2 separate regions of the Homo sapiens genome follow, and region 1 is linked to region 2. A link means that fine-mapping ties the variant in region 2 to the expression of a gene that starts in the linked region. Tissue or cell type: whole blood. Region 2 holds a variant in brackets; the other region holds the start of a gene. All regions are shown on one strand. Distances are between the middles of the regions.

Region 1 (2,682 bases), 150 kb after region 2:
AGCTGCAGTTGGGCCCAAGGGCTGGGTGAGCGCCTGGGGCTGTCCACAGTGAGCAGATTCAGCAGAATTGCAGAACGTGGCCACCCGGCTGACTGAGGAAGGCCCTGTCCCGTGGGCATAAAGCCAGGATTCCTTTGGCCTTTTGCTGCTGGAGGAAAACTAGGCTGATTCAGAAGGTCTCACCACTGCTCCCTAGCACTGACTAAAGTCCGGGATGTCAGACTATGAGGTCATATATCACAAGTCTCTGTACGCCTTTGATCCCCAGTTTCCACATCAATAAAATGGCGGTAATCATATCTGACGATTGGGCGGGATTCTATGAAATAATGCGCACAAAGCTCTGGCAAAACCCTATGTAATGGAAGATGTTACTGATGACCAGCACTCAAGTCCTTCCTCCAGCCTCCGCATGGAAAGTTCCCAAGTGTCCCTAGAAGTCTGGAACACTCTAATGTTGACTGGAAAGAATAAGATGGATCTCTTTTTCTGATATGGAAGCGTCCCAAATCCAGTCATACCAGCTGGGAGGCAGTGCCCGCTAGCGGTAAAAAGCATGGATTTTGGATTTGGACAGATCCCCCTGAATTGAAGGCACAAGGGAAACCACTTGTGCCTCTGGCCAAGTTAATTTTTCTCTCCAAGCGTCAGTTTCTCCACCTGTTAAAAAGTAACGGCAAACCTACCTCACTGGAGCTTAATAAGGATTAAGTGAAATAATGCAGGTCAAATATCCGAGCCTTGATATATATAAGCCTCATGTGTATGTGTTCCCATTTATGTAAAATAACAGTGTAAGCATATTCAAAGAAAGCAATTCAGAATGTACTCTTAAACTAAGCAATGGTTATCTTGGTGTGGGGAGTTGGGGAAACCAGGGGCCTGCCTTTTTCTCTATTATATAATGCTGCAAAGTTTGATCTTTAAAAAAGGACATTAAAAAGCCCAATTGTACTTTAAACAACACAAGTTTTAATACTTGGGTAAATAAATGGCATCTAAACAAAGAAAGAAACTGAAGGCAGAGCCAGGCCCAACCCTAGGAGACTGAGGAAGCGATTCTGCTTTGCCTGCCCCCAGCTCAACCCCTGCACTAAAACCCCCCGGCCCCAGCCCCAAGGTCCAGGGGGTTGTATTCCTGGGGGCGACCCGGCGCCCCTCAAGTCTCCCTCCTCTTGCACACACACACACACAAACCAGACTCGAATCCCCGCCTCCCAAGGGAAAGTGTTTTTTAAGGTCTGTTCCAGGGCCTGCCGGGGCCAGGGACCGAGGTGGGACTGAGTGGCCGGAACTCCTCCACCTGGGAGAGTCGGTCCGGGTAGCTGCGGCCAAGCTGAGTCAGCCCGGCGGGCGGCGCACGCGGCGCCGCGTGACCCGCAGCCACGTGACCCGCGCGGGGCCGGGCCGCCGGCGCAGTCGCTGCAGCCGCCGCGGGAGGCGTCCGTGTAAGTGGGTAGCAGGGCTGGCGGGGACCTTCCTCGCGGGCCGGAGCGCGGAGCGCTGCCCCAGCCCTACGGCACTCGGGGTCGGGACCCCGGGGAGCCGCCCTCACACATTTTCCAGGAGGGATCGGAGGGGCGATGGGGTGGTAATGGGGGTGGGGGACACGCTGTACCCCACCGACGACCGCGCGGGCCACCTTCGCCTCTTTCCTTCACACTCCCACTAACCGCAGTGCTGGGGGAACAAAATGTCCTCCTTCTGGAGCGATTACCTTTTCCCTTTTGTGCTTTGGGGGAAACTGAAGACCCAGAGGGGTTCGCAAAGCAAGGTGGGCCAGTAGGAAGACCCCTCCGCTAGTCCAGAGAGAGCACACAGCTCCCCAGGCAGAGCTCATTGCCCCACCTGCTCTAGTGGCCCAGCATGATCCCATGACCTCTCTACTTCTGGAGGAAGAGTCTTGGGGTAGACGGCGGGGAGGGGGTAGGGTATCCCGTTCCGGTAGGGGCAGGGATGAGGGAGGCGGGGCTGAGCCGAGCATCTATCTGGATGGTAACAGCCAACGTAGAAAATACTAAGTTGTTTACATGCATTCTCTCATTTCATATTACCCGTCGTGAAGTCTGTGAAGTAGGTACTATTGTCCCAATTTTTACATAGGAGGAAACGGCTCAGAGAGAACTTAGGTCCTTTGACCGAGGTCCTGCAGGTGGTAAGTGAAGGAGCTGAGATTAGAACCCAGATCTGCCCCCAGTGGCGCCTCCTCGTGGTCTGTGGGTGGTGGAGACGACTGGCCTAGCCTCTTAGCTCCTCTGTGAATAGAAAGGCCTTTTTCCTGGCTCAGACAGCTTGGGAAGGGGATTGTTGCTGGGTAAGAGAAGCTTCTCCCACCACCTCCATCTCTTTCTCTGCCCCTTACCATTGATTCCTTTCTGTCATCCCCTCTCCCCCACTGCAGGACAAGATGAAGCTCATCATCCTGGAGCACTATTCTCAGGCGAGCGAGTGGGCGGCTAAATACATCAGGAACCGCATCATCCAGTTTAACCCAGGGCCAGAGAAGTACTTCACCCTGGGGCTCCCCACTGGTGCGTTCTTGGATGGAGAGGGTGCCGTGGATAAGGGTGGAGAGAGTAGGCAACAGGGGCCAGGTACACCGGCTCACTCAGCCAAGGGACTTCACGGGGGCTCTGGGGTACTGGTGCTGAGAGAGCACCTTCCTGCCCCTTCCACATACAA
Region 2 (2,682 bases):
ATTTTTGGAGATAGTAGGCTTAGAAAGTGACTTTTTAGATGTGCTCATAAGTTTTGCAAAATCAGGGCATTTTGAAACCCCTGTAAGATTGACGGAGGAAAAAAAATGTATAACGGTCTAACAGTTTTAGGCAAAGTAAGAGATGAGTGTTTACTTAGGGCAGTGGTTTTCAAGCCATTTTTTTTTCAGCTGCAGAACCCTTTTTGTAAAACAAAATCTGAGATCCCAAATACTCTGAGTAAATTTATTTATATATTGTTTTAGTATTTGTTCATGTCTGTAAATGAGATCACAAATAACCACACAATTGAACACATATTTGAAAATACATCTTATTACATGATTAAGGCTGTTTTTAAAAGATAAAATTCCAATTAAAAGTTTATAGAATCCTAGTGTTTTGTGGAAGGTAATTCAGAAGCATCAGAAGGATTATGAAATTTGGGACTAGCCAGGTGCTTCTCCATGGAGGCCCGAGAGTTGTCATAGATTCATGCAGATGCCATTGGAGGTGATCTATATAGTGAGAGAGAACAAAGAGCAGAGGACACCCCAATGCTTTCTGTTTAATGGCCAAGCCAAACTAGTACTGAAGGGGCATGAAGAGGTGAGCCTGTGAACACTGTGACAAATGCCACCACTGTGAAAAGCTCCCCAGATCCCCCAATAAAGGGGAAAACAGGCAGGCCCTATCTGGGCAGGCTTGGATTGGCAGGACTGGGTTGGGGGGCACAGACACAGGCTGGAACCATCTATCCAGGGGCATACAGGAACGTTCCTTGGAGAGCTTCAGGAAGAGAAAGCAGGCATGTGGTTTTCTTGTTGGATGCGGCTAGATGGAATGGGAAGATAGAAAGCAACTAGGGTTAGGCCGGGCGCGGTAGCTCACGCCTGTAATCCTAGCACTTTGGGAGGCCAAGGCGGGCAGATCACCTGAGGTCAGGAGTTCGAGACCAGCCTCACCAACATGGTGAAACCCCCATCTCTACTAAAAATACAAAAGTTAGCCGGGCACGGTGGCAGGCGCCTGTAATCCCAGCTACTCGGGAGGCTGAGGCAGGAGAACCACGTGAACCCAGGAGTCGGAGGTTGCAGTGAGTCAAGATCACGCCATTGCACTCCAGCCTGGGGACAAGAGTGAGACTTCGTCTCAAAACAAACAAACCAAAAAACCAAAACAAAACAAAAAAAAGAAGTAACTAGGGTTCAAATGGCCCAGGGTTAAGATTTGGAGAAAGGAAAGGGAGAGCGGCCACTGAGAAAATGGCCCTATCTACAGTTGTGTAGGAATTTAGGACAGAGAAGTAACAAGAGTGATCTAAGCAGCACTGGAAACGTAGGGGAAGGGGGAGGTGTCGAGAGGGCGGCAAAGAAGACATGGAAAGGGCAGGGAAAAGAGCAGAGAATGTAAGGCCAGTGCAGAAAGAAACAAAGCAAAGGATAAGAAGTTCAAAGGCTGCTTCGAATACCTAAATCCATACAAAGATAGTATAC[G/A]GCAAGTCTTGTAATGTAATACAAATGGACTAAGCAAAAAAGAGGCCAGAGTTTCAGCCTATAGAACTCAGGAAAGGAAATGAGAATCAAAGTTTATTGAATCTGTAGAGTGTTTTGATGTTAGTGAGTGTTGGAAAATTATTTGCCGGGGGAGGGAGGCTTTGGTTGCTTGGTGGTAAAGAACGCAAAATAATCCCTTTTATAGTAATCTGTGAAGATCAAATGAACATGTATATAAGTTCCCACATAAACATATGATAATATTACCAGAAAAGCAATAGTAAATCATATTCTCATCTGGGCTGCAGGAATTTAGGAGGATAAGAATGATCTGATTTATCAGGGATGGCCTAATGACATTTAGGAAAGAAGGAATGAGGAAAGGCAGGGTTTATGAGAGCTATACGGTCCTGAAAAGGAAATGAATTCCCTCGGTTTGAATTATAGGTTTGGGCTTTTCATGTCCTGCCCTTAGACCCAATACTATAGCTGATCAGCTGTGAAGAGCTGTTTGCTAGATGCTGGGCACTTTACCTCCCTAAAAATGGCCCTGTGAGAAAATATTCCAGCACACAGATTAGAAAACCAAAGCTTGGATAGGACATGCAAATGACCCAAGATTACACAGCCAGTAAATGGGGAGCGAGGGCTCAAGCCCTAGGCTAACAGTCACAAGTCCCCTTGGCAGCTGGTTTTCTAGGTCCTGGCCACATAGCACCCTGAGATGTTCCCCCATCCTTTTGGCCCTTTTGGGGGTGGCCTCTTCAAGTGGCAGTAATCTCTCCTTTGAGGGCATTTGGTTTTACGAACATCTTTAAAAGTGCCCTTCTGGTGAAAATTAAGTTAGCAGCAAGCTTGAAAAGTGTAAAAAGCTTCTTCCATCACTATGCAAACGAAGCAGAAAAACATTACATATTAAGATTTCTTGGACAGGAAAGCACTTTGTCTCCTACCAATCTCCTCCCAGACTAAAACCTCCTTGTGTTCAGGGGCTGTCTTGTACAAATCTTTGTATATACTACATCCAGCATAAAGTCATGTATGTCATAACTGGCTAATAAGATAGTTTTTATCAAATAAAGGCCCAAAGCAACTATATGCAAGAAGGCAGAGCACAATTATTTATAATACATAAAAACTGTATTTTTCAAAGTAGATCATCACTTCTAACACAGGTGATTATACAAA

Evidence for each region. PIP is the estimated chance that this variant, and not a neighbour inherited with it, causes the effect.
Region 1: it holds the start of GNPDA1, and the variant in region 2 is fine-mapped to the expression of GNPDA1 in whole blood (INTERVAL, PIP above 0.99).

The regions. Positions count from the first base shown.
Region 1 is chr5:142,011,761-142,014,442 of GRCh38, reverse strand. GNPDA1 (glucosamine-6-phosphate deaminase 1) reads left to right here and starts at 1,416. Exons shown (of 7, transcript NM_005471.5): 1 at 1,416-1,448; 2 at 2,402-2,531. The coding sequence starts at 2,408. RefSeq lists a cis regulatory region at 1-149 and silencers at 1,291-1,560, 2,232-2,291.
Region 2 is chr5:142,160,159-142,162,840 of GRCh38, reverse strand. The region is part of intron 2 of LOC107986455 (a long non-coding RNA gene); the gene reads left to right. Among named protein-coding and RNA genes, the nearest start is that of NDFIP1, 53 kb to the right of the region's middle. The variant G/A (reference allele first, on the strand shown) is at 1,495.